2 separate regions of the Homo sapiens genome follow, and region 2 is linked to region 1. The links come from fine-mapping of genetic effects on gene expression. A gene starts in region 1. The other region holds a variant in brackets. All regions are shown on one strand. Distances are between the middles of the regions.

The links.
Region 2: its variant is fine-mapped to the expression of PRKRIP1 in whole blood (TOPMed, PIP 0.97).

The regions. Positions count from the first base shown.
Region 1 is chr7:102,388,610-102,405,045 of GRCh38, reverse strand. It overlaps PRKRIP1 (PRKR interacting protein 1), which reads right to left and starts at 8,683. Exons shown (of 6, transcript NM_024653.4): 1 at 8,509-8,683; 2 at 7,348-7,426; 3 at 5,398-5,498; 4 at 363-448. The coding sequence starts at 8,634. It overlaps LOC100630923 (LOC100289561-PRKRIP1 readthrough), which reads right to left. Exons shown (of 9, transcript NR_038967.1): 5 at 7,348-7,426; 6 at 5,398-5,498; 7 at 363-448. RefSeq lists enhancers at 8,165-8,706, 8,488-8,727 and a silencer at 8,748-8,827.
Region 2 is chr7:102,434,037-102,447,076 of GRCh38, reverse strand. It overlaps ORAI2 (ORAI calcium release-activated calcium modulator 2), which reads right to left. Exons shown (of 4, transcript NM_001126340.3): 2 at 10,744-10,852; 3 at 7,896-8,133; 4 at 1-564. The coding sequence starts at 8,120. The coding sequence ends at 25. Among named protein-coding and RNA genes, the nearest start is that of ORAI2, 7.0 kb to the right of the region's middle. RefSeq lists enhancers at 38-585, 1,955-2,034. The variant C/T (reference allele first, on the strand shown) is at 4,395.

The DNA.
Region 1 (16,436 bases):
CTGAGGCAGGAGAATTGCTTGAACCCAGGAGGCGGAGGTTGCAGTGAGCCGAGATTGTGCCACTGCACTGCAGCCTGGGGGACACAGTGAGACTTTGTCTCAAAAAAAAAAAAAAATACAGACCTGAAGGAGACACAGAAATCAATGTGATCACTGAAGTCCTGACTTGCAAGCTCTGGACAATCTGTAACCAGTTGGAGGGTCATAAGGAACTTGCTCTCTGCTCAGGTAGTAGAAGTCATTGCTCTACATTCATGACCCCTACAGGTCATGCAGAGGAACTACTACTGACTGCAAGGACAGCTCACCCAGCCACCACCCCTGGCCCTTAAGTGTCATCACAGTTAGGCCATGCCGCTTACCGCTTCTTCCGGCGCTTTGCGGTCTGCTCCTCTGCAGCAATTTTATTCTTTTCCAGTCTTTTCTGAAACTCTGCATCCAATTTTTGCTGCAACAAAACCCACATCATTTAGACACGCTCTGGTCTGGGCAGACTGTGGGAGGTTTTGCTCAGGCAAAGTAGGAGAGTTCTAGAAGTCACACCACTGGGGGTGACGGAGGCACTACCCGGGTCCCCAGGGCCATTTTAACTTTAAAAGGCTGTCCCAGAGGCAGGGCAGGTAATCAATACATAGGTCTCCGATGGCGAAGTAACTCTTTTAGTTGACTGAGGCACCACTCATGCATAGCACAATATAGGAGACAATACAGGAGGGAGTGCAGAGGACACTCTGAGGGCAGCGCTCACCATCTGCTCAGCCGGGGCCTTGGATACTGCCCAGAGCTCATCAGAATGAATGGCCGGAGGGTCAGAACCATGGAATTTTCAAGCCCTAAGCCCAACCATAGTTACCAAATGGCTGAGTTTTTTTGTTTTTGTTTTGAGACAAGGTCTTACTCTGTCGCCTAGGCTGGAGTGCAGTGGCACAATAGCTCACTACAACCTTGAACTCCTGGGCTTGATAGATCGTCCTGTCTCAGTCTCCTGAGTACTTGGGACTATGGGTGCATGCCATTACATCTGGCTAATTTTTATGTTTATTTTGTAGAGACAGGTCTGGCTATGTTGTCCAGGCTGGTTTTAAATTCCTGGCCTGAAAGGATCCTCCCACCTCAGCCTCCCAAAGTGCTGAGATTACAGGCCACTGTGCCCAGCCACCAAATGACTGATTCTAAAGCAGCGTAACACACGCCATCTGCTGCCATGACCTGCTGCTAAGCACACACCCACACCCACACAGATATTTGTAAGTACTGCATTACTTCTTCTCAGCAGTTCTGTCTCCAAGCCTCAGTCTACTCATCTATAAAATGGGGAAAATTGTAATTCCTCTCTCCCAGAGCTGTTAGGAACAATAATGAAATAAGGGTTTGGGCACAATGGCTCATGCCTGTAATCCCAGTACTTTGGGAGGCTGATACTCAGGAGGCTGAGACAGGAGAATCACTTGAACCCAAGAGGCAGAGGTTGCAGAGACCGGAAATTGCGCCACTGCACACCAGTCTAGGCGGCAGAGGGAGACTGTCTCAAAAAAAATAGAAAACCACCTGTAAACTACAAAGACATCTACTGATTCAAAGTGTCATCTCTTGTTTCTTCCAGTCACAGCCATAAAGGTCAATGGAGCAAAAAATAAGGAGCCGGCAAAGGAGGAAGAGGTGCCTTCAACACCTCTGCTGGTCTGCACCGCCAGGGCTGTACGCATCTGCTTACAGTGGCACAGAAACCAAACCAAACAAGCCCTCTCTCTGAGGGCAGAAAATATTCCTTCAGGAAGGAAATCAACTTTAATTAATCAACTTTCTGGACAACCAAAAAGCAAATGACTTAAATCTAAAAGATCTGATTTGCTTAGAAGCTGAGCTGTGAAGTCCGGGTGCGGTGGCTCACTCCTGTAATCCCAGCACACTGGGAAGCTGAGGTGGGCAGATCACCTGAGGTCCAGAGTTCGAGACCAGTGTGGGCAACATGGTGAAACCCTGTCTCTACTAAAAACACAAAAATTAGCCAGGCCAGGTGGCAGGCACCTGTAATCCCAGGTACTCGGGAGGCTGAGACACTAGAATTGCTTGAACCCAGGAGGCAGAGGCTGCAGCAAGCCAAGATTACACTCCAGCCTGGGTGACAGAGTGAGACTCTGTCTCAGAGAAAAAAAAAAAGCTGAGCCGTGAATGTCTTACTCTGTGCTGCTGAAGAAGCCAAATTTACCAGCAAGTGAACTAAACAGAGCCCCCGCTGGCTGCCGCACCTGGCAGAGGCAATGTCTCAAGCAGGGGTGAGTGGGACTGGGCTCTGATGGAGGTGATCTGTCACTAAAAAATGAGGACGTGCTTGCCTTTTTTTTAAATCTCAGAGACTGTCTTTTGCCATCCAAAATAAGAATCTTTGCATTTGCATAGAGGCCAAGGTTTGTGAAACATTTTTCTGTATTTTCTCTGAATCTTGAATCAATACATAAAAACTTCAGACGAATTTATAGTGTTTGAGACAGCAACCTACTCTATGTCCTCCCCTCTAAAATAGTTTATAAAAGTGTTTCTTCTGATAGTAGTTTCTTTTCCTTTCTCTCCCTCCCTCACTCCACCCCCCACCCCCTTTCTTTCTTTTTGAGACAGCGTCTGGCTCACTAACTCAGGCTAGAGTACAGGGTGTGATCACAGCTCACTGCAGCCTTGACCGTCCAGGCTCAAGCGATCCTCCTGCCTCAGCCTCCCAAGCAGCTGGGACTACAGGTGGCTACCACCACATCTGGCTAGTCTTTGTATTCTTTGTAGAGATGGGGTCTTGCCACGTTGCCTGGGTTCAAACTCCTGGGCTCAAGTGATCTTCCCACCTTGGCCTTCCAAAGTGCTGGGATTACTGATGTGAGCTGCCGCACCCAGCTTGATGGTTTCTATACACAGAGCATTATTTTTGACAGGCAAACCCACTGCAGTGACCTGGTAGAATTTTGTGACAAAAACTGTCTAATACTTCTCACTAGGATTGAGACTGTTACCAACAAAAGATGGCAGAAACAAGAAGAACCACCAACACCCAGGGGCCAGGAAAAACTACAGGACAAGCAAGTATCAGTTGACAGCCAGCACAACAATGACCCCATTCTGTTTCCAGAGCAGGACATTTTTTCTTCTTCTTTTTTCAGAAGGAGTCTCACTCTGTCGCCCAGGCTGGAGTGCAGTGGCACAATCTCAGCTCACTGCAACTTCCGTCTCCCAGGTTCAAGTGATTCTCCTGCCTCAGCCTCCCAAGTAGCTGGGATTACAGGTGTGCACCACTGCGCCTGGTTAATTTTTGTTTTTGTTTTTTTTGAGACAGAGTTTCACTCTTGTTGCCCAGGCTGGAGTGTAATGGCGCAATCTCAGCTCACCGCAACCTCCAACTCCTGGGTTCAAGCGATTCTCCTGCCTCAGCCTCCCGAGTAGCTGGGATTATAGGCATGTGCCACCACGCCCGGCTAATTTTGTATTTTTAGTAGAGATGGGGTCTCACCATGTTGGCCAGGCTGGTCTTGAAATCCTGACCTCAAGTGATCCACCCACCTTGGCCTCCTAAAGTGCTGGGATTACAGGCATGAGCCACCACGGCTGGCCCCCCAAAGCAGAATTTTTTCTAACTCAATTTTGGCCATTCCAATAAATTCTTACATATTTTCTTCTGTATCCTGGCTGTCTCTTTGGTTTAAATTTTCCCTAATGTTTTATTTTGAAAATTTCAAACAGAAAAGTTAAAAGAATTATACAGCAGATATATCCACTGCTCTTTGACTCAACAATTCCTGTTGTGCTGGATTTTCTTTATCACACACCTATTGATCTATCCATACCTCTATTGGTATGCACTGTATTATGTCTTCCCAGCAGTCCTGTTTCCAAGCCTCATTTTCCTCATCTATAAAATGGGGAAAATTATGATTCCTCCCTTCCAGAGCTCTACTCATACATCTATTCCTCCACTAATTCATCATTTTTTTGTTTGTTTGTTTTGGTGCATTTCAAAGTAAGCTGCAGACATCGGGAAGTTCCATTCTTGAACATTCAAGCATGCACGTTATTAAATAGGGTTTCATATTTGTGTATGCTTTTCTTCTTCCTTTTAAAGTAATAGCTGGCCGGGCATGGTGGCTCACGCCTGTAATCCCAGCACTTTGGGAGGCCGAGGCAGGTGGATCACTTGAGGTCAGGAGTTCAAGACCAGCCTGGCCAACATACTGAAACCCCATCTCTACTAAAAATACAAAAAATTAGCCAGGCATGGGGGTTGTGCCTATAGTCCCAGCTACTCAGGAAGCTGAGGCAGGAGAACCACTTGAAACTGGGAGGTGGAGGTTGCAGTGAGCCAAGATCACCCCACTGCTCTCAGCCTGGGCAACAAGAGCAAAACTCCATCTCAAAATAATAAATAAAGTTAGTATCTACACAGAACCAAATGCCCAGATCTCGAGTGTACAGTTTGATCACCCCAGAAAGTCCCCTCATACGTCTTTTCCCAGTCAACCGTGACCCCAACCAGATAACCAGTTTTTTTTTCTCACACAAACTAATTGTACCTGCTCTAAAACGTCATATAAATGAAATTACACAATATGGTCTCTTTCGTGCAAGGCTTCTTTTACTCACCATGTTTAAAGATTCATCCCAGTTGCTGTACAGATCAGTAGTTTGTTCCTTTTTATGGCTAAATATTACAATATTTTATGATTATTTCTTGGTGTTATTTTTTTTTTCCTTTTTTTGAGATGGAGTTTCACTCTGTCGCCCAGGCTGGCATGCAATGGTGCAATCTAGGCTCACTGCAACCTCCACCTCCCACGTTCCAGCAATTCTCCTGCCTCAGCCTCCTAAGTAGCTGGGACTACAGTTGCCCACCACCACGCCCAGCTAATTTCTGTATTTTTAGTAGAGACGGGGTTTTGTATTTTTAGTAGAGACTCTGCATTTTGTGCTGTCCGTAGAAGGCAGACCTCACACCAGCCACAACTAGCAGTATCTATTCTTCCTCAAACGCTTTTTTCTTTTCTTTTCTCTCTTTTTTTTTTTTTTTGAGATGGAGTTTCGCTCTTGTTGCCCAGGCTGGAGTGCAATGGCACGATCTTGGCTCACTGCAACCTCCATCTCTTGGGTTCAAGAGATTCTCCTGCCTCAGCCTCCTGAGTAGCTGGGATTACAAGCATGCACCTGGCTAATTTTGTATTTTTAGTAGAGACAGAGTTTCTCCATGTTGGTCAGGCTGGTCTCAAACTCCCGACCTCAGGTGATCCCCTGCCTCGGCCTTCCAAAGTGCTGGGATTACAGGCCTGAGCCACCACGCCCAGCCTCTTCAAATGCTTTTTTCTAAAGAAAGTACACGCACACTGCCCAAACATGGGGGCTCAGCCAGCCTTCTGGCTCACTGACCTTCTCAGCCATGGCATCCATGTAGTCCTGTCGCTGATATTCTCTCCGGCGCAGATGTCTGTACACGTGGAACTCTCCACTGCCGGCCCCAGCACTTGAACCTGTAGCCAGAACAGTCCACAGTTCTAGATGAAATTCAGTTACCAACACAGGTCACCCTTAATCGAGGGTGACTAAAGAAACAAAAAGTGGAAGTCGTGGAAGGGACCATGCCTTCCTTTCTCCCCACTGTATCCAGAACTGGCCCAGTACCTGGCATATTGTAGATGTCGTGAATTATTTGTTCTATGAATGTTGAATGTAAAGTCACTAAAAATCCCACTCAAATGCAGTATCAGGAGGGGCAGACTGTGGTTAAGTGACTTTCTCACCTCCTCCATGATTTCACATTTGACACGCTAAATTTCTAGTGAGTTGAAAAGACATCCATGATACATTAAATGAAATAAAGGTGCTTACAAAGTTGTATATGTAGAACAATCATATTTTTGTAAAAGTGTTTTTTCTTCAGCTTTTTTCTTTTTTTTGAGACAGGGCCTTGCTCTGTCACCCAAGATGGAGGGCAGTGGCGCAATCACAGCTCATTGGAGCCTCAACCTCCTGGGCTCAAGCCATCCTCCTGCCTCAGCTTCCCAAGTAGCTGGGACCAGAGGCATGCACCACTATGCCTGGCTAATTTTTACATTTTTAGTAGAGATGAGGTCTTCCTGTGTTGCCCAGGCTGGTCTCAAACTCGAGCAATTCTCCTGTCTCGGCCTCCCAAAGTGCTGGGATTACAGGCACGAGCCACCGTGCCTGGCCTATGTTGCTTTTTAAAGACATAATGCTATTGCACATTAAACTACAGTAGAGTATAAAGAAAACTTGTATGTGCAGTGGGAAACTAAAGAATTTACATGATTCCCTTTATTGCGACATTCACTTTAACTAGGTTGCCTGGAACTAAACCCGCACCATCTCCATGGTAAGCCTGTAGATATGTTAATTTATGATCCAACAAAATAATAAAACTATTTTTATTTACAAAAAAACCACAATGCGTTATTAAGAATAATGCAGGAGATGGCCGGGCACTGTGGTTCACAGCTGTAATCCTAGCATTTTGGGAGGCTGAGGCGGGCGGATCACCTGAGGTCAGGAGTTCAAGACCAGCCTGGCCAACATAGTGAAACCCAGTCTCTACTAAAAATAAAACAATCAGCCAGGCATGGTGGCACGGGCCTGTAGTCCTAGCTACTCAGGAGGCTAAGGCAGGAGAATCGCTTGAACCCGGAAGGCGGAGGTTGCAGTGAGCCGAGATGGTGTCACTGCACTACAGCCTGGGTGACAGAGTGAGACTCTGTCTCCAAAAGAAAAACAAAAACAAAAACAAAAACAAAAAAAACCGCAATACTGCAGGAGAAAATTCTATAGTGCCAAACCATAAGCAACTATAGCCCTTAAGCTAAATTTACCAATGTCAAATGAAAAACAAATAAAAGCAACTATATCCCCGTCATTGTAAAAGCAAAACACGAACATGTGAACACACATTTCCCCTCATCAGAGATTTAACAAATACCAACTACAGGATTTTTATAGCTACCTTTTTTTTTTCTTTTTGAGACAGAATGTCGCTCTGTTGCCCAGGATGGAGTGCAGTGGCGCCATCTCGGCTCACTGCAAGCTCCGCCTCCTGGGTTCACGCCATTCTCCTGCCTCAGCCTCCCAAGTAGCTGGGACTACAGGTGCCTGCCACCACGCCCGGCTAATTTTTTTTGTATTTTTAGTAGAGACGGGGTTTCACCGTGTTAGCCAGGATGGTCTCGATCTCCTGACCTCATGATCCGCCCGCCTCGGCCTCCCAAAGTGCTGGGATTAGAGGCATGAGCCACCACGCCCAGCCTATAGCTACCTTAAAAAATTATATTTACACACACACACACACACACACACACACACAGCCATTACCCATGACATCTCGGACAAATTCTGGGGGAGGTCGAGGTGCCCATTCACTCATTTTCTCTGGAATTGGAACTGCTTTGTCCTGCAACATTTAAACATGAAAGCATTTAAGTATAAACCTGTTGACAAAATTATATATCTCCCTCTCTTTTTTTAGAGACAGGTTCTTGCTCTGTTCCTCAGGCTGGAGTGCAGTGGTGCAATCAGAGCTCACTGCAGCCTTGAACTCCTGGGCTCAAGTGATCCTCCCGGTTCAGTCTCCAGAATAGTTAGGACTCTCAGGCGTACACCACCACACCAGGCAATTTTTTTATTTTTGTAAAGACAGGGACCCACTATGTTGCCCAGGCTGGTCTTGAACTCCTTCCTGGCCTCGGACCATCCTCCCGCCTGGCCTCCCAAAGCGCTGAAATTACAGGCAGGGGCCACAGCACCCAGCCCAAGTTACATCTCTTAAGACCAAAGAATTTTAATTGACTAATGAAGCAGGACTGCTTTGCTACTTGGACACAGAGCTGATTTTGTGTTCTTCCCTCTGTCGTGGCTTTTTTCATCCTATGTACTCTTGGGTATAACACAGTCCACACCTTCCCAGGGCTACGCTTTCCAGAGCAGAACTGAAAAACCTAAGCCATAGTTTCCAGCTAGAAACCGCCAACTTTAACACTACTAGATAAGAAGAGTCAAGCTTTTCTAGTTAAAGGTATAAAGGACGTTCCCGTTCAATTGTTTTTATGATTGAGGGGACCGAGGCCCAGAGGGGGTGTGAGCGGGAGAGGAGTGACCAGCTCCAAACGTCTCGGCCACTGTCTCTCTAACGATCAGTGTTGTTTAGAGTATACCCTTTTGCTAACCCACAAATTCTACCTTTTCAGTCTAACGCTTTTTGTTCACAGAAAGTTAAACCAGAAGGGGTCTTGGAGCACGGGAAGCCGCTCCACCGTGCTTTGATTCAAGCTGGGCTCTCACACAAGGACAGACGGGAAGTTCACTATCTCCGGGACAGCCTCCTTCTCCTCCTCCTCCCCAAAGACTGCTCTTGGAGGGTCGGATACTGAGTTTCTGAGTTTGGAGGCGGGGAAGGTGGACCTGCGGGAACCCTGAAGCGCTGCAGAGGAAGGGGGTGGGCCTCGGACGGGCCGTGGAGCCTGGGCCTCGTCTCACCGGGTTCTTCATGAGCCGCTCCAGCTTGAGCTTCTGCTCCTCCGCCGCATTCTTGGGGATGACGAGCGTCTGCGGCTCTTTCTTGGGCCTCGGTGGTCGCACCGAGGAGGCGGCTGGGCTAGCCATGGCAGCCTTCCAGTTTCACAAGCGAGCGGCGGCGTCGGCGCGCAAGTATGACGACACAGCCGCGCGCCGGCGACGCATACGCAGTCTCCGCAGAGGGGAACGGAGGCGGGGTTGCAAGGCGCAAGCAGCCTGCTGAATATTCATGAGCCTGAGGCTGGCGTGGGTTATTGTGTTCAAAGCTGCGGGGTTTCATTTCCTGTTCCTGAACAACAAATCAGTGCAGCTAGATGCTCACGTCCCTGAAGGGGAGGTGGCCCTCCGTGCCTGAGTAGCCTGGCCCTAGCCGACCTCTCCAGTCCCCGCGGGCGTCTTCGTGCCACCGAGCAGCCCCGCTGATGCTCTCGGCACCTCCTCCCCGTCGGCTCTCCTCGCCTCCCGGCTTTGTCCGGGCACTTCCTTGGATCTGGTGCCCCCTCCTCCATTTCTGACAATCTCCTGTTTACATAAGACAGCGCAAACATGTCACTGAGCTTCCTGAAGACTGGGACATTCCTCCTTTGTCCGCCTTGAATTACTCTATACCTGGCCCCCCGCAAATACACCTCTGCCAATGAATGACCGTCTCGTAGTGTGAGGCACAGTAATAAACCTAAGGAACCATGTCTGCTCATTCTGCTTGCGAGCAGGATTTCACAAAGGCCGTGACTCGGTGACTGAGCGCAGCCCTCTCCAATAACGCCCTGAACAATAAGCTGGGAAGAGCGAGAGAGAACACAGGTTTCCACCTCTCTTGCCTGAACACTGCATTTTTAGAAAAGACAAGTTCAATGATCCTAGCCCCTGCCTCTTCCTGTACATAATCTCTGACGGGATTAATGATTATGCTTCTATAACTTTTTTTTTTTTTTTAGAGACAGGGTCTCGCTTGGTTGCCCAGGCTGGAGTGCAGGGGCTCGATCATAGGTCACTGCTGCCTTGAACTCCCGGGTTCAGGCACTCCTCCCACCTCAGCCTCCTGAGTAGCTGAGACTACAGGCGCATGCCACCACACCCAGTTAATTTTTTATTTTTATTTTTTGCAGAGACAAGGTGTTGCTGTGATGCCCAGGCTGGTCTTGAACTCCTGGGCTCAAGCGATCCTCCTGCCTGGGCCTCCGAAAGTGCTGAAATTATAGGTGTTAAGTCACCATGCCCAGCCAAGCCTCTGTAATCTGTAACTAGATAATACCCTCACACACAGCCTTGATGAAATTTTGCTCTATTGTTAACTTCTGAGCACATTAGATATAACTTTTTTTTTTTTTTTTTGAGACAGAGTCTCACTCTGTCCCCCAGGCTAGAGCTCAGTGATGCAATCTCGGCTGACTGCAGCCTCTGCCTCCCAGGTTCAAGTGATCCTCCTGCTTCAGTCTCCTGAGTAGCTGGGAATACAGGTGCACGCCACCACGCCTGGCTAATTATTGTATTTTTAGTAGAGATGGAGTTTCACCATGTTGGCCAGGCTTGTCTCGAACTCCTGACATCAGGTGATCCACCCGCCTCAGCCTCCCAAAGTGCTGGGATTATAGGCATGAGCCACCACGCCCAGCTTGATATAACTTCTGAGCACATGCAGGGCACCACCAACTGTATATAAATGTTTTTATATAAACTGTATATAAATATAAATATATAAATGTGTGCTGAAACTCTGTTTTGGAGCAGTTTAACAAACTCTGTGAAAGACTTTCCCTGGTTACAGTCCTCAGTAAGATTGCAAAAAACCAACCTTAATTTTTTAAAAGCCTGATTTTTTGTTTAGTTGACATTGAGAAACAGAAAAGGCCCGGCATGGTGGCTCACACGTGTAATCCCAACGTTTTGGGAGGCCGAGATGGGCAGATCACTTGAAGTCAGGAGTTTGAGACCAGCATGGCCAACATGGTGAAACCCCATCTCTATTAAAAATACAAAAATTAGCCAGGTGTGGTGGTGTGTGCCTGTAATCCCAGCTATTCAGGAGGCTGAGACAGGAGAATAGCTTGAAACTGGGAGATGGAGGTTGCTGTGAGCCAAGATCGTGCCACTGCACTCCAGCCTGGGTGACAGAGCAAGACTCTGTGTCTAAAAAAAAGAAAAAGAAAAAGAAAAAAAAATTAGAGAGAGAAAGAGAAAGAGAAAAGCTGTTGCTCACATACATTTGGTGTTACAGACCATAGGCTGTTTGGCTCCCCTTGTAATGAAACTTAACAGGGATCCAAGCAGATTTCCCAGACAAGGCATTTATTTCAGAGCTTGTGCTTGAGTGCAGGGAAGACAATGGAAGCAGAAGTGAAGGGATCCTCCAGCTGACTTGTGGAAGAGCCAGTGGGGAATTTTTTTTTTTTTTGTGAGACAGAGTGTTGCTCTGTCGCCAGGCTGGAGTGCAGTGGTGCGAACTCAGCTCACTGCACCTCCGTTTCCCAGGTTCAAGCAATTCTCCTGCCTCAGCCTCCCGAGTAGCTGGGACTACAGGTGCACGCCACCACGCCCGGCTAATTTTTTGTCTTTTAGTAGAGACAGGGTTTCACCATGTTGGCCAGGATGGTCTCAATCTCCTGACCTCATGGTTCGCCCGCCTCGGCCTCCCAAAGTGCTGGGATTACAGGCATAAGCCACTGCGCCTGGCTGGGAATTTTTTTTATTAGGCAAAGCATGGGAATTGACATCAGGGGTAGGGTATGCAGGCTGGGCTGGGCAAAGCACGTGAGGGTATGCAGGTCGCATATCTGGTTTTGAGGGTATGCAGGTCGCATATCTGGTTGCGATGGTTATCTTAAGTAATGAGTCACCTGGTAGTCTGGCTGGTGGCAACAAGGGTGTCAATCAATTGTTCAGCATTCCTTCCCGAGGTGGGACACTCCGCAAGCTTCATTTGATATTTGGATCTCCTAAGGCCAGTCTCTGGAATTCTTTTTTTTTTTTTTTTTTTTTTGAGACAGTTTCGTTCTTTATTTTCTTTGTATGACTAAAGCCTCGGGGTTAGCAGCTATATTGTCAGCGAGGCAATGGTGTGGGTTTTGTGATCAGTGGGACAAAAGAAGGAAAAAGGGAAAGGATGTGAAGGAGAAGCTCTGTCCAGTTCCTGTTCTGTTTCCCTGGGAGCTGGACAGACATTCACAGCTGGGTCTTGGTGTTCTCTTGTCAAACAAAAGTAATTTCCAGGACACCAACATCACACAAGACCATTCCGTGACCACAAAAACCTGGTGTGGTGGCTCATGCCTGTAATCCCAGCACTTTGGGAGGCCGAGGTGGGCAGATCACCTGAGGTCAGGAGTTTGAGACCAGCCTGGCCAACATGGTGAAACCCCGTCTCTACTAGAAATACAAAAAATAGCCAGGCGTGGTGGTGCACACCTGTAATCCCAGCTACTCGGGAGGCTGAGGCTGGAGAATTGCTTGAACCTGGGAGGCAGAGGTTGCAGTGAGCTAAGATTACGCCTTTGCACTCCAGCCTGGGCGACAGAGCAAGACTCTGTCTCAAAATAAATAAATAAATAAAAATAAAAATAAAAGAAACATTTGCTGGAGGGACATGGGCTCCTAGGGACAGGGTCGCCCTCCCACTGAGTCCCCAAGAGGATGAACAGGTGGACAAGTGGATGGTACCTGGAGGGTGAAGTGTTTGTTCTCCAAAGGTCATTCCTGGCTGCCCAATAGTGGGTGGTTTTCTAGGAGCTCAGGGTGGAATTAAGGGTCCTTAGTGGCCCAGGTCTGTCACTGGAACCTGGGGAGGGCTTGGCCTGGCTGGGGCCATGCACACAAACTCACCCAGGATCACACACATTAGCAACCAGTACCTCACTTTTCTCCAAACACTCCACAGAACGAAGGTTTTTGTCTACAAAACAAAGCATCTTTTCCTCCTTGGAGAACTCCCATACAGGCTTCTCAACTTGGCCAAAATGCTACCTCCTCCAAGAAGCCTTCTCAGATTGCCTCTCCCACCCCTCACTTCCAGGAAGTGAATTGCTCCCTTCTTGGTGCTCTCCCAGCTCTGAATCCCAATAACTGGTGAAGTAGTTACCACTATGTCCTCACCATCTGTGTCCCCATGGGCTTGGCAGTGTGGTGGGCTGGGCCAGAATCCCAGCATCTAACCCTGGCATGGTGTAGAGTGGGTACTTCCAGGATGCTTGGAGAATAAAGGAATGAAAACATATATGAAGACTGAATAGACGTGTCAGTGAGATGAGCAAGTGATGGATGAATGAATGAATAAGGACATTAAGAGAAAGAATGAAGACTCAATCAATAAAAGGACACTTAATAAATGAACATGTGAGGCCACGGACTATCAGAAAGCCACAGAGCCAGGAGTGCGGGGCAGTGTCTGTCCGGTTGGTAAAGGTCTCCCTGGCACCCCCAGCCTCAGTGTCTGTCACAGAGCTGGTGCTTGGCAGATATCTGCTGGATGAAAGTTAAGCGAATGAATGGAGTGAAGGAATGCATGAAGGCAAGAGAGAGTTAAGGCATGTGGGTGTGAAGGAGCTGGTAATAACTTCAGTGTCTAAGTCTGGTCTAAATTGTGGACATATTTATCAGCAGATATATGTTTTTCAATAGACGGGGTCTCACTCTGTCACCAGGCTGGAGTGCGGTGGTGCCAGTATAGCTAACTGCAGCCTCGAACTCCTGGGCTCAAGGGATCCTCCTGACTCAGTGTCCAGAAAAGCTAGGGCTACAGGCAGGTACCACTATGCCCAGCTAATTTTTCACATTTTTTGTAGACATGGGGTATTGCTATGTTTCCCAGGCTGACCTCAAGCAATTCTTCAGCCTTGGACTCCTGAGTAGCTATGACAACAGGCTGGTGCCACCACACTCAGCTAACTTTTTATTTTTATTTTTTGAGAGGGAGTTTCTCTCTTGTCACCCAGGCTGGAGTGCAATGGCGCGATCTCGGCTCACTGCAACCTCTGCCTCCCAGGTTCCAGCGATTCTCCTGCCTCAGCCTCCTGAGTAGCTGGGATTACAGGCACCCGCCACCATGCCCGGCTAATTTTTGTATTTTTAGTAGAGACAGGGTTTCGTCATGTTGGCCAGGCTGGCCCCGAACTCCTGATCTCAGGTGATCCACCCGCCTCAGCTTCCCAAAGTGCTGGGATTACAGGCGTGAGCCACCTTGCCCAGCCTAATATTTTATTTATTTATTTATTTATTTATTTATTTATTTATTTATTTGGTAGAGCTGGAGTCTTGCTATGTTGCCCAGGCTATCATCCTGATTCTACTGAAATGGAACTGAGGCCCAGAGGAGAAAGCAATTGGCTCAGGGCCACACAGACTCAAACCCAGCAGTCTAGCCCTGGGTCTGTGACAGCCTGAGTGATTATGTGACTCACACAGATGGGACAGGGCCCCAGCAGACCCTGGCGGGAACCCTGGTGGCACCCTCCTAGGTGGCACCTTCCTGGTGGCACCTTCCTGGGGCTGAGGTCAGATTTGAGGTCCGGCTCCCTGGGATGAAAGGCCGCCTCACAGATGCCCACAAGTCTCACACCCAGGGTGATGTCCCTTCTGCCACCAGAGGGCAGCAAATCCCCACCCAGGTCCCGCCACTAGGAGCCTTAATCCACCTTTCCTGAGATCCAGAACTGGGCACCCAGGGAGCAAGGTCTACTGGCTGGAAGATACCAGTGCGTTGCAGACTGGCAGACTGGGTGCCACCTACCCTGGGCTTGCACAAGCAACCTAACCTCTCTAAGGCTGTTTCCTTATGTGCAAAATTGGTACAAGCGAATCTACCTTGTCGCTGGCACATGGGTAAAATGACGTTTGGACATGCAGTGTCCAGCAGAGCCTGACATTCAATAACATGGCTCACGCCTGTAATACCAGCACTTTGGGAGGCTGAGGCAGGTGGATGATCTGAGGTCAGGAGTTCGAGACCAGCCTGGCCAACATGGTGAAACTCCGTCTCTACTAAAAATACAAAAAAAATTAGCCGGGCGTGTGGGGTGGGGGGAGCTGCCTGTAATCCCACCTACTCGGGAGGCTGAGGCAGGAGAATTGCTTGAGCCCAGGAGGCGGAGGCTGTACTGAGCCAAAATCGCACCTCTGCACTCCAGCCTGGGAGACAGAGAGAGACTCTGTCTGAAAAAAAAAAAAAAAAATAGGTGACCACACTTGTCCTAGTTTGATCCTAGGACTGAAGGGTTTCCCAGAAAGTGGGACCTTCAGTGCTAAAACCAGGAGAATCTTGGGCAAGCCAGGATGGTTGATTACCCTAGACGAGTGGGTACTCCTATCTCAATTCTTTGAGTAGTGGTTGATACTTTAAGTACTAAAACAGCAGGGTTTTTTTTCTTTTTTCTTTTTTTCTTTTCTTTTCTTTTTTTTTTTGAGACAGAGTTTCACTCTCGTTACCCAGGCTGGTCTCAAACTAGAGAAATGAAAATATATGTCCACTGACTGACCTGTATGCAAATACAAACAGTAGCTTGATTCATAATTGCCAAAAACTGGAAACAACCCATATGTCCATCAAATTGAGATCTAGACCTACAGGGAAATACTACTTAGCAATAAAAGGAAGGAGCTTTTGCTGAGTGCGGTGGCTCATGACTGTAATCCCAGCACTTTAGGAGGCTGAAGAGGGAGGATCACTTGAGGCCGGGAGTTCAAGACCAGCCTGGCCAACAAGATGAAAGCCTATCTCTACTAAAAATACAAAAATTAGCTGGGCATGGTGGTGTGCACCTGTAATCTCAGGTACTTGGAAGGCTGAGGCAGGAGGATTGCTTGAACCCAGGAGGCGGAGGTTGCAGTGAGTCGGATTAAGAAGGTGGATTAAGATATCATACCACTGCACTCAGCCTGGGCGACAGTGAGACCCCATCTCAAAAAAAAAGGGGACCAGGTGTGGTGGCTCATGCCTGTAATCCCAGCACTTTTGGAGGCCGAGGCGGGCAGATCACGAGGTCAGGAGATCAAGACCATCCTGGCTAACAGGGTGAAACCCAGTCTCTACTAAAAATACAAAAAAATTAGCCAGGTGTGGTGGTGTGCACCAATAGTCCCAGCTATTCAGGAGGCTGAGGCAGGAGAATGGCGTGAACCCGGGAGGCGGAGCTTGCAGTGAGCCGAGCTCGTGCCACTGCACTCCAGCCTGGGCGACAGAGTGAGACTCCATCTCAAAAAAAAAAAAAAGAAAAAGAAAAAAGAAAAAGGAAGGAAGGACCTCTTGAGGCTTGCAATAACGTGGATGGATCTCAGATGCATTATGTTTAGTGAGTGAAGTCAGATCTATTAATAGAAGGCCACAACCTGAATGGTTCCATTTACTTGATGTTCTGGAAAAGCCAAAATGATAGGGATGGAAAACAGATCAGCAGTTGCCATGGGCCAAGTAGGAGGACGGGACTGACCTGGGAGGGCCTCAGGGAACTTTCTTGGGTAATAGATATTTTTTCCCCTCCCTCCCTCCCTCCCTCCCTTCCTCCCTTCCTACCTTCTTTCCTTCTTTTGAGATGGTGTCTCACTCTGTTGCCTAGACTGGAGCGCAGTGGCGTGACCATAGCCCATTGCAGCCTCAAACTCCTGGGCTTCAGTGATCCTCCTGCCACAGCCTCCTGAATAGCTGGGACTATTGGTGCACACCACCACACCTGGCTATTTTTACTTTATTATTATTATTATTTTTGTAGAGATGATGTCTTGCTGTATTGCCCAGGCTGGTCTCAAACTCCTGGCTTCCAGTGATCCTTCTATCCCCAGAATCCCAAAGCACTGGGATTATAGGCATGATCCACTGCACCTGGCCTCTCTGCATAATATTTGGATGACAAAAATGTTCTATATCTGAATTGTGGTGGCAGCTACACAACCATCCACATTTA
Region 2 (13,040 bases), 44 kb before region 1:
CTCCCAGCCCCGGCCCTCGGCCCCTCACAAGACCTGCAGGCTGCGCTCATGCCCGTCCAGCTGGACCTTGAGCTTGTGGAGCTCCTCGATCTCGCGGTTGTGGCGCTCCGTTTTGTGGCGCACCAGGGAGCGGTAGAAGTGGATGGTGAAGACCACGAAGATGAGGCCCACGGGCACCATGATGATGGTGGACACCAGGGCGGCCTGCCAGCCCGTGTGACTCCCAGGGCCAGGTGGGGGGCCAGGCTGGCGCCGGGCATCCACGGGGAGGAACTTGATCCAGCAGAGCAGCACCACCTCGGCCAGGAAGAGTAGGATGCCAAGCACGGTGGAGAAGCCCCAGGCCAGCTCGATGTAGGGGTGCATGCGCTCATGCGGGGACTCGCTGATGGAGTTCAGGTTGTGGATGTTGCTCACGGCCTCCACATTGGGCAGGATGCAGGTGCTGATGAGGAGGGCGAACAGGTGCACGGCCACCAGCACCGTGGTGCAGGCGCTGAAGGCAATCAGCAGCGGCCGCGGGTACTGGTACTGCGTCTCCAGCTGCACCTCCACCATGGCCACCTGCGGGGACAGCAGACGAGTGGTGCTGGGTGTGGAGAGGGCAAGGTATGGCCCCACCAGGGCCACCTGCCAGGCAGAGCAGGGGCTGGGCCAGGTTCGGGGGACAGGGTAGCCATGGGCTTGCCTGCTGGCAGGACTCACCCATGTTCTGGGCCCTGGAAGACCAGAGGGCAACCTCCTCACTGATCAAATGTTTCACATTTTCCTTTGTTCTAATTATCTAAAGAAGACTGCACTGAGAAAAACATCTCAACAGTACAGAAGAGGCCAGCGTGGTCGCTCACGCCTATAATCCCAGCACTTTGAGAGGCCAAGGCTGGTGGATCACTTGAGGCCAGGAGCTGGAGACCAGCCTGGCCAACATGGTGAAACCCTGTCTCTACTAAAAATACAAAAAGCAGCCGGGCGTGGTGGCAGGCACCTGTAATCCCAGCTACTCGGGAGGCTGAGGCAGGAGAATCACTTGAACCTGGGAGGTGGAGGTTGCAGTGAGGCAAGATTTCACCACTGCACTCCAGCCTGGGTGACACAGTGAGACTCTGTCTCAAAAGAAAACAAGCCACGAAAGTTAAAGAAAGAAAAGAAAGGAAAGAAAGAAAGAGAGAGAAAGAGAAAGAGAGAAAGAAAGAGAGAGAAAGAAAAGAAAAAGAAAGAAGGAAAAGAAAGAAAAGAAAGAGAAAAGGGAGGGAGGGAGGAAGGAAGGAAGGAAACAAAAGAAAGAAGTGAAAAACTGGCTGGGTACAATGGTTCATGCCTGTAATCCCAGTGGTTTGGGAGGTTGAGGCAGGAAGATCACTTGAGGCCAGGAATTCCAGGCTGCTGGGAGCCCCGATTGCACCACTGCACTCCAGCCTGGGGGACAGAAGGAGACCCTGTCTCTATAAAAAATACAAAATTAGCCGGGCATGGTGGCACATGCCTGTAGTCCCAGCTACTGAGGAGACTGAGGTGGGAGGATCGCTTGAACCCGGGAGATAACAGGCTGCAGTGAGCTATGATCACACCACTACACTTCAGCCCGGGTGACAGAGTGAGACCTCGTCTCTACAAAAAAAGGAAACTGACCTTTCAAAAGGTAAAAACTGACCAGGCACGATGATTCATGCCTGTAATCCCAGCACTTTGGGAGGCAGAGGCAGGAGGATCGCTTGAGCCCAGGAGTTTGAGACCAGCCTAGGCAACATAGTGACAGCCCATCTTGACAAAAAAAAAAAACAAAAAACGGAAACTGACCTTTTAAAACAGAACAACTGAAAGTGCGGAGAGTCCCCAGACTCAGAGCTGCACACCTGGATGGCCTCAGACAGACCACATGGTGCCTCCTCAGCAGAGGCCAAAAGCCCAGTGAGAGCCGGCATCTCTAAAGCTCGGGAAAGGTGACGGAAGTGAGGCCGAGGGTGAGGAGGGAAGCTGTGGAAAGGAGGCATGGCTGGGTCTGCTAAGGAAGCAAAATCATCAACCGTAGTCGGAGGCTACAGCAGGTAGAGTCTAAAACGAACAAACCAAGGAACGGCAGGCTCTGCTTGGTGTCTTGAAATGTGAGGTCAGCCAGGCGCGGTGGCTCACACCTATAATCCCAGCACTTTGGGAGGCCGAGGTGGGTGGATCACTTGAGGTCAGGAGTTCAAGACCAGCCTGGCCCGCATGGTGAAACCCCGTCTTTACTAAAAATACAAAAAATTAGCTGGACGTGGTGGTGGGCATCTGTAATCCCAGCTACTCAGGAAGCGGAGGCAGGAGAATCACTTGAACCTAGGAAGCAGAGGTTGCAGTGAATGGAGATCATGCCACTGCACTCCAGCCTAAGTGACAGAGCAGGACTTTGTCTCAAAAAAAAAAAAAAAAAAGAAGAAGCCTGGGGAAGGTTCTTCTACCCACTGTTTCCACTGTTTCCCTCCTAGACCTAAGCCATCCCTGTTTAAAGAAAAAAAAACAACAAAACTCAGGCCAGGTGCGGTGGCTCATGCCTGTAATCCCAGCACTTTAAGAGGCTGGAGGGTGGGGGGCGGGGGGGGGCGGATCACTTGAGGTCAGGAGTTGGAGACCAGCCTGGCCAATATGGCAAAACTCTTTCTCTGTGAAAAATACAAAAATGAACCGGGCATGGTGGCTCGTGCCTGTAATCCCAGCTACTTGGGAGGCTGAGGCAGGAGAATCGCTTGAATCTGGCGGGCAGGGGTTTCAGTGAGCTGAGATCATGCCACTGCACTCCAGCCTGGGAGACAGAGTGAGACCCTGCCACAAAAAAATAAATAAATAAAATAAAATAAAATAAAAAAATAACTCACAAGGCTGGGCCCCGGAGTTAGAGGCTGCAGTGAGCTATGAATGTACCACTGCACCCCAGCCTGGGCAATGGAGCGATATCCTGTCTGGGGAAAAAATAAAGTAAAAGATAAAATAAAATAATATATATGAAGATTTCATAATGTCCTTCAGCAACTGCCACCTCTTAGCAGCTCATTTCTTCACCTCGCTTTCAGTGGTGAGGGAACACTTCCTAGATAAAAGAAGATATGGCCGGGTGCCTGTAATCCCAGCACTTTGGGAGGCCGAGGTGGGCGGATCACCTGAGGTCAGGAGTTCGAGACCAGCCTGACCAACATGGTAAAACCCCATCTCTACTAAAAATACAAAAATTAGCTGGGCGTGGTGGTGGGTGCCTGTAATCCCAACTACTCGGGAGGCTGAGGCAGGAGAATCTCTTGAACCCGGGACGCAAAGGTTGCAGTGAGCCAAGATCGTGCCATTGTGCTCCAGCCTGGGAGACAGAGCGAGACTACATCTCAAAAAAGAAAAAAGAAGACATGGCAGTCCTAGTGGACCAGAGCCGAAAAACAACTCAGCAGTAATACAGTTGGGGCCCTTGTGAAACGTATCCAAAAACCAGTAGCCACGGAACATGGGCTGAGGGGTGGTTTTTCTCAGTGTGGCCCTGGGTTGGCTATGGTCACCTCAAAGGAAATGGCCCAAGTGACAAATATTACAAACCACAGAGGCCTCCAAGACAGGAAATAAAGATGATTATGAGGTAGGGGCAGGGCTTGCAAAAAGTGGTTTTGTTCCACCTTAAAAGGAGAAAAGCGGGCGCCTGTAGTCCCAGCTACTTGGGAGGCTGAGGCAGGAGAATGGCGTGAACCCGGAAGGTGGAGTTTGCAGTGAGCCGAGATCGCGCCACTGCACTCCAGCCTGGGCGACAGACAGCGCAAGATTCCGTCTCAAAAAAAAAAAAAAAAAAGGAGAAAAGGGGCTGAGTGAGGTGGCTCACACCTGTGATCTCAGCACTTTGGGAAGCTGAGGCGGGAGATCACTTAAGCCCAGGAGTTCAAGACCAGCCCAGGCAACAAAACGAGACCCCATCTCTATTAAAAAAAAAAAAAAGAAGAAGAAGAAGAAGAAGAAGAAGAAGAAGAAGAAGAAGAAAAGAGAAGGCAATTTTTCACTGTGTTTATGCAGCATTTTTTAAATTTAAATTAATTTTTTTTTTTTTATTGAGACAGAGTCTTGCTCTGTTGCCCAGGCTGGAGTGCAGTGGCGCTGTCTCGGCTCACTGCAACCTCTGCTTCCCGGGTTCAAGTGATTCTCCTTCCTCAGTCTCCCCAATAGCTGGGACTACAGGCATGCGCCACCACGGCTAATGTTTTTTTTTTTTTTTGAGACGGAGTCTCCCTCTCTGTTGCCCAGGGTGGAGTGCAGTGGCATGTTCTCGGCTCACTCCAACTTCCCCTTTCCGGATTCAAGTGATCCTCCCACTTCAGCCTCCCGAGAAGCTGGGGTTACAGGTGCCAGCCACCACGCCTGGCTAATTTTTGTTTTTTTGTTTTTTGAGA[C/T]GGAGTCCTGCTCTGCCACCGAGGCTGGAGTGCAGTAGAGCGATCTTGGCTCACTGCAACCTTTGCCTCCCGGGTTCAAGTGATTCTCGTGCCTCAGCCTCCCGAGTAGCTGGGACTACAGGCGTGTGCCACCACGCATGGCTGATCTTTGTATTTTTAGTAGAGATGGGGTTTCACTGTGTTAGCCAGGATGGTCTCCATTTCCTGACCTCGTGATCTGCCCGCCTCGGCCTCCCAAAGTGCTCAGATTACAGGTGTGAGCCACTGCGCCCAGCCTAATTCTTGTATTTTTAGTAGAGACAGTGTTTCACCAGATCGGCCAGGCTGGTCTCCAACTCCTGACCTCAAGTGATCTGCTCACCGTGGCCTCCCAAAGTGCTGGGATTATAGGCATGAACCATGGCGCCCGGCCCTCCTTTTCATATTTTTAGTAGGGACAGGGTTTCCCCATGTTGGCCAGGCTGATCTGGAACTCCTGACCTCAAGTGATCCGCCCACCTCAGCCTCCCAAAGTGCTGGGATTACAGGCGTGAGCCACCCCGCCTGGCCTATGCAGAGGTTTTATGAGGTGGGGCCTTGGATCACTGGTTCTCTGTGTTGGGGGAAGAATACGCATCAAGAACTAAGCTTCAGGTTAGGCATAAGCACGTGTTGCTAGACAAAGGAACAGCTTTGCAATTCTAATGAGGGAAGACACACTATAAAGGGCGAACTCTACCCAGCAATCTGTACCTTTGCCTGTTCCCAGGGCCCTGCCCCGACTCAGCTACAGTTTCTGATGATTTGTATTTGTCACTTATTTTTCCCAGGCTGCCCTGCAGTGTGAAGAACGATCTGACCGGATGGCGCTATGCTAATCTAATCAAGCAGGTGCACTGCGGCTCCCCCAAGGCTCAGCTCCACGCCAGATGGTTCACTTGCTTCCCACTGCAGCTGGTGCTCTGTATCTATGAGTTCCACATCTGCAGATTCAACCAACCGCAGGTCAAAAATACTTGGGGGAAAAAAACAAAATGAAACAACAATATTTCTCCCTTGGTATAAGGTGAAGAAAAAAATAACAATAATTAAAGAAAAAAAAAACCAGCCTGGGCAACATAGCAAGAGCCACCTCTGGTTTTTTTTTTTTCTTTTTTTTTTTTTTGAGATGCAGTCTCGCTCTATGGCCCAGGCTGGAGTGCAGTGATGCAATCTCGGCTCAGTGCAACCTCCGCCTCCCGGGTTCAAGCAATTCTCCGTCTCAGCCTCTGGAGTAGCTGGGATTACAGGCATCTGCCGCCACGTCCAGCTAATTTTTGTATTTTTAGTAGAGACGGGGTGTCACCATGTTGGCCAGGCTGGTCTCGAACTCCTGACCAGGTGATCTGCCCACCTCAGCCTCCCAAAGTGCTGGGATTACAGGCGTGAGCCACCACACCCAGCCAGCTTTTTCTTTTAAATTGCACCATCAATCTAACAATTGAGGCTCCGGCCTACAGAAAAACAATAGAGGCTGGGCACGGTGGCTCCTGCCTGTAATCCCAGCACTTTGGGAGGCCGAGGGTGGCGGATCACCTGAGGTCAGGAGTTCGAGCCCAGCCTGGCCAACATGGTGAAACCCCATCTCTACTAAGAATATCAAAATTAGCTGGGCGTGGTGATGTGTGCCTGTAGTCCCAGCTACTCGAAAGGCTGAGGCAGGAGAATCGCTTGAATCCAGGAGGCAGAGGCTGCAGTGAGCTGAAATCACACCACTGCACTCCAGCCTGGGTGACAGAGCAAGACTCCATCTCAAAACAAAAACAAAAACAAACAAAAAGAAAAACAATAATTGTTTTCACATAAGGAAACAGGCTGGACAAGGTGCAATGCTAGCACTTTGGGAGGCCGAGGTGGGAAAATCACTTGAGAGTTCAAGACTGCAGTGAGCCATGATTGCACCCCCGCACTCCAGCCTAGGCAACAGAGCAGAGAACTTGTCTCTGAAAAAAGAAAAAAAAAATTAGCCAGGCATGGTGGCACGTGCCTATAATTCCAGCTACTCAGGAGACTGAGGCAGGAGGATGGCTTGAGCTCAGGAGGTAGAGGCTGCAGTGAGCCATGATCACACCACCGCCCTCTCCAGCCTGGGCAACAGAGTGGGACCCTGTCTCTAAAAACAAAACAAAAAACAAATAAATCACTTCCACCCAATAGGACCTGTGAGCATACTGTTGTGTCCTCACTGTGAGTCCTTAACCTCTGGGACAATTCCCTCCAGGGGTGTGGGTCAGCGGCTTTGGAGTCAACAGGAGATGGGCCCCTTGTCAGAGCCGCAGCTTTGTCGGAAACTGACTCTTGTCCTAGGGGATGACTCAGAAGGAAGGCGGCCGCTGGGAGCCAGGCCAAAAGCTCTCCTTTGTCACCCTGGAGGCCAGATTCCAGGAACGTCTGCATCGCTAACTGGGCTAAACTGATCCAACCCCAATCAATCTCTGAGGCCCTGCTCAGAGATCCCTGAGAGTTCCAAACTTTTGGGTGGTGCCTGAGACGGGGCAGACATGGGCGCCTTTTCTCAGGAAACCCTGTACCATGCAGCGATTTGATTTGATTTTATCTTTTTAATTAATTAATCTATTTATTTCGAGACAAAGTCTCACTCTTGACCAGCTGGAGTATAGTGGCGTGACCTTGGCTCACTGCAACCTCCGGCCTCCCAGGTTCAAGCGATTCTTGTGTCTCAGCCTCCCAAGTAGCTGGGATTACAGGCGCCTGCTACCATACCCAGCTAATTTTTTTGTACTTTTAGTAGAGACGGTGTTTCACCATGTTGGCCAGGCTGGTCTCGAACTCCTGATCTCAAGTGATCCACTCACCTCGGCCTCCCAAAGTGTTAGGATTACAGGTGTGAGCCAACACGCCTGGCCAAAATAAATAAATAAATTTTATTTTTTCTTTTTAGAGATGGGGTCTCACTCTGACGTCCAGGCTGGAGTGCAGTCGTGTGGACATAACTCATTGAGGCCTCCACCTCCTGGACTCAAGTGATCCTCCTGCCTCAGCCTCCCAAGTAGCTGGGGCTATAGGTGCACGCCACCACGTCCGGCTAATTATTTATTTTATTTTTGTAAAGACAGGGGTCTCCCTGTGTTGCCCAGGCTGGTCTCAAACTCCTGGCCTCAAGCTATCCTCCCACCTTGGCCTCCCAAAGTGCTGGGATTACAGGTGTGAGTCACAGAACCTGAGCTACTATAATTACCCCGCACCAACCTCCCTCCTTGCTAAGCAAATACTTGATGTGAACAGGACAAAGTGGGCTTTCTGAAGATTCTAGAGCTGGGAGCCCCTGGCAACTCCCAGCGCCCCCACTCGCACTGATAGAGTCGTCCTCTTAGAGCAGCTGGGACGTGGGTGGATGCTTCCTACTGGTCCATCCTGGCTGCCAGAGACTGGAGGGAAGGCTCTGGTCCCTGAGGCATCCCGGGACCTCAGTTAGCAAAGCCCATCTGACCAGTGTGCTCCTCACTTGGCGCCCACACTCACCATGGCAAAGCCGGAGAGGAGGGCGGAGGTCCTGCTGGAGGCCTTCAGCTTGGCCCTGCTCAGGTAGAGCTTCCGCCACGACAGGGCCTGTACCGAGTGGTGGTTAGAGGTGACCAGTTCCAGGTAGCTGCGGCGGACCCAGTCCCGGTAATCCATGCCCTTATGGCCGGGCTCAGGGCAGGCAGGAGCAGAGGGGTCGATAGGCACGTTAAGCTCAGCACTCATGGTGGGAGCCAGGCTAAGGGTGGGAGAGAGACATGCTCAGACATCCTAGGTTACTGCGGCCTGGAAGAGCTAGACTCCAAGCCCATTCAACCTACAGAGGCTGCCATATACAGCCCACGCCAGAGCCCAGGGGTTTAGAAAGTGCCCAGGACCTAAAGTTATGTTTCTTTGTTTGTTTGTTTTTGAGACAGTGTCTCACTCTGTCGTCCAGGCTGGAGTGCAGTGGGGCAATCTCACCTCATTGGAAACTCCAGCTCCTAGGTTCAAGCAATTCTCCTGCTTCAGTCTCCTGAGTAGCTGGGATTATGTGTCCGCCACCACGCCTGGCTAATTTTTGTATTTTTAGTAGAGACGGGGTTTCATCATGTTGGCCAGGCTGGTCTCGAACTCCTGACCTCAAGTGATCTGCCTGCCTCAGCCTCCCAAACTGCTGGGATTATAGGTATGCGCCACTGCGCCCAGCCTTCCAGGACCTAAAGTTATGAAACCTGGATTTGACTCTACTGTGTGATTCTGAGCATGACAGCTGACCTTTCTGACCTGGCTCTTTCATCGTGAGAATGGGGATATTTCCACCTGTAGGACTTTTTATTTATTTTTATTTTATTTGATTTGATATATTTTTTTGAGACAGTCTCGCCGAGTTGCCCAGGCTGGAGTGCAGTGGTGCAATCTCTGACTCCCGGCTTCAAGCGATTCTCCTGCCTCAGCCTCCCAAGTACCTGGGACTACAGACGCCCGCCACCATAGCTGGCTAATTTTTGTATTCCTAGTAGAGATGGAGTTTCACCATGTTGGCCAGGCTGGTCTCAAACTCCTGACCTCAGGTGATCCACCTGCCTCAGCCTCCCAAAGTGCTGGGATTACAGGTGTGACCCACCGCGTCCAGCCTACTTTTTTTAAAAATAGAGACAGAGTCTCATTCTGTTGCCCAGGCTGGAGTGCAGTGGTACGATCACAGCTCACTGCAGCCTCGAACTCTTAGGTTCAAGGGAAGCTTCTGCCTCAGCCTTCTGAGGAGCTAGGACCATAAGCACAGGACCATGCCTGCTAATGTTTTAATTTTTCCTAGAGACGGGAATCTCACTATATTGCCCAGGCTGGTCTTGAACTCCTAGCCTCAAGTGATCCTCCCTCTTACACCTCCCAAAGTGCTGGGATTACACGTGTGGGCCACTGCACCCGGCCTCACCTCTAGGGCTTTTGAATAAGATAATGCATCTGAAGACGAAAGACTTCTTCCAACATCCAGGTGCCAGCCATGGAATAAACATTTCCAAGTAGCTGCTAGTTTCACAGATCCAACTTACATTTTATTATTTTCTAAATTTATTTATTTTTTGAGACAGAGTCTCGCTCTGTCACCCAGGCTAGAGTGAAGTGGCGCAATTTCGGCTCACTGCAACCTCCGCCTCCTGGGTTGAAGCCGTTCTCCTGCCTCAGCCTCCCGAGTAGCTGGGATTACAGGCATGTGCCACCATGCCTGGCTAATTTTTATATTTTTAGTAGAGACAGGGTTTCGCCATGTTGGCCAGCCTGGTCTTGAACTCCAGAGCTCAGGTGATCTGCCCGTCTCAGCCTCCCAAAGTGATGGGATTACAGGTGTGAGCCACCGCACCTGGCCTTCAACTTAAATTTTGATCAGTACAGTTCACCCTAAGAAAAATATTGGACTTACATAACTAAAGCCACATCCAAGCTACAAGGCAAACTTTTAGCAAGATGAAAAATGAAATCCACCAACTCACATGACCACATTTTAAGGAGAAACAGAAGGCGGAGATGCCTGGACTCACACCTGGTAAACATCTGGTTTGACTAACACGGATTAAACATCAGAAGGACAGATCTGTCAAGATTTGTGAATTTAAACCCAAATCTCCACTAAGTAGGGGATTGGCGGTCGCGTGTGTCCCAAGGAGCTGGGCTGCTCGGCCACACGCCAGGATCCAGTTCTAATTAATCTGCAGGGCGTGCTTCAAGGGCACAGGCATCTTGTGGTTTACTTGACATCAAAAAGAGTGACTTTTCCAGCCTGGCCAACATGGTGAAACCCTGTCTCCACTAAAAATACAAAAATTAGCCAGGTGTGGTGGCGGGCTCCTGTAATCCCGGCTACTCGGGAGGCTGAGGCAAGAGAATCGCTTGAACCCAGAAGGCGGAGGTTGCAGTGAGCCAAGATTGCGCCACTGCACTCCAGCCTGGGTGACAGAGCAGGATTCCGTCTCAAAAAAAGAAAAGAAAAGAAAAAAAAGAAACGAAAAGAGTAACTTCTATGTCCAGGCCCACATAGGCCCCACGGAAAGTCTATGTCAGGCTGTTACACACAGATCCGTGTTTCTAGGTCCCAGGGAGCGTGGCTGGGGTGGACGGGTGGAGTGGGGAGTGCTTAACAGGGTCAGCAGCTGAGGAAATGCCCCAAACTTAGTCCATCCATGCCAGAGTCGAGCCCCCCATAATTGAAAATGCCCCAATTTGGAAATTACGCAGGAAGGTGCTGGAGGTGGAAAACAGTGTCGCCTTTCCCTTTGTTCTCAACAAGGCTACAAAGCCACAGCCTTCCCTGGCCAACAAGACCTCTGGGAACAGTTCTGTGCTATTTCTGCCAGGGGATGCCAATTACCAGGTCATTTATACGAATGCCAACTCAGGCTCTCCATCCCATCTCCTTGCGCACATCCGCAGCCAGCAGCACCGCATCCAAGCACTTCCATCCCTGGGACGTTCCTTCCCTTGGGGAGAATTCAGAGAAACGCTGCAATCCGTAGGTTAGCTCCACATAATAGAAAATGCTGTAATTTGGAAACTGCATTTTTCCTCTCCCCCCACCCCCATAGTTAACAGAATTGAGCATGCAGGTCTGATGACCGCAGTATACAGAGACTGGAGGGGTGAGACGCTAACCTTTGCTCCCTCCGTCCTCCCTCCTCCATCACACAGGTGCTTAGCGCACTTGGTACTTAAAGATCCAAGATGAAAGAGGCCAGAATTCATGGCCTCCCAGTAGGGGAGCAAGGTAAGGGGATGTGGGTCAGGAGCAGTAGCTCACACCTGTCATCTTTGGGAGGCTGAGGTGGGCGGATCACTAGAGGTCAGGAGTTCGAGACTAGCCTGGACAACATGGTGGAAACCTGTCTCTTCTAAAAATACAAAAAGTAACTGGGCATGGTGGTGGGCGCCTGTAATCCCAGCTACTCAGGAGGCTGAGGCAGGAGAATTGCCTGATCCCAGGAGGCGGAGGTTGCAGTGAGCTGAGATCCTACCGCGGCACTCCAGCCTGGGTGACACAGTGAGACTCTGTCTTAAAAAAAAAAAAATAGCTGGGTGTGGTGGCAGAGGTTGCAGTGAGCCAAGAGCACACCACTGCACTCCAGCCTGGGCAACAGAGCGAGACTCCATCTCAAAAAAAAAAAAAAAAAAGAGGGGGGGGCAATCCTCATCCACTGAGCTAAAGGCTTCAATGGAGGGCAGGGAGCAGAGGACTGGCTGCCTCACACCAAGGCCAGGAAAAGGTGCTTGCAGGTAACACCGGGGAGGGGACAGAGCGGCCCTTTGCATGCCAAAGTGCCTCATGCCTGTAATCCCAGTGTTTTGTGAGGCCAAGGTGGGAGGATCACCTGCGGCCAGGAGCTGGAGACCAGCCTAGGCAACAGAGTAAGACGCTGTCTCTAAAAATAATTTTTTTTGACATGGGGTCCTGCTGTGTTACCAAGGCTGGAGTGCAGTGGCACAATCTCAGCTCCCTGCAAATTCTACCTCCCAGGCTCAAGCGATCCTCCCGCCTCAACCACCCGAGTAGCTGGGACTACATGTGTGTGCCACCATACCTGGCTAATTTTTGGTATTTTTGGTAGAGACAGGGTTTTGCTATGTTGGCCAGGCTGGTCTAGAACTCCTGAGCTCAAGTGATCCGCCCACCTTGGCCTCCCAAAGTGCTGAGATTATAGGCATGAACCACTGCGCCTGGCCTCTAAAAAGAATTTTAAAAAAGAGGGACCTTTCCTCAAAGACAAGATGCTGCCTGCATGGAAGGATTCCGAGAGACGGGAAGGCCACTCCAGGTGTACATGTGGGGTGGCTCTCCTTGTCCAGGAGATATGGAGGGAAGACTGGCTGCCACCTGGGGGGTGGAGGGGGCAGGGAGATGTGGGTGGAAGACACTTGGAGCCTGGGGCTGTGGAATGAGCCAGAGGGTCTGGGCAGCATGACTGGGCGTCCAGCCACAGGAGAATGGAAGAAATTGGTGAGTGGAACGGTCTGGGCACTGCTAGATCATTCTGGTTTGGGACCACAGTTCAACCCAGGGAAATGGCTGGCCGACTGGCAGGAGTGGGACGCAAGGGAGAGCCTGGTGGCCTCCAAAGGAAGGAAGGGTGAACAAGAGGGATGCCCCATCAGTAAGGGTGGGCTGGGCTCAGGTCTGAGAGTGGAGGTGAAGAGCTCAGGGCAGTGAGGGCTGAGGGTGGCTTCCTGGGAGCCGCCAGGCCTCCCATGCCCCATCGGTGAGGCCCTGCAGATGTCCCCAGAGTGGGTGGGATTGTGGAGGAAACGATGTCTGTCTGCCTGGAGCTGGGTCTTGAGACAGGTCTCCAGGTCTCGAAGGAGCAGCCCAGGAGGGGGTTCAAATCCATCCTTTATGTTCCCAATGCCAACTGTGTGTGCCAGGCCCGGTGGCCCAGGGGGAGGGACAGAGTCTGGGCCTCACACTGGATCCCAGGCAGGGGGTGGGGTGGGGCAGGATGGAGCCCTGTACTTCTGTCAGGTGGCACAGACCCTAGAGGATGCTCCGGGACTGAACCTTGTGGGGTTGCTTTTTTTTTTTTTTTTTTTTTTTTGCTTTAATGAGCAGTCCGAGAAAACAGGTCTTGTAGAATAACGCGATCCCCTCTCTAGAGATGAGCTTTTCTTCCTGGCTGGCCT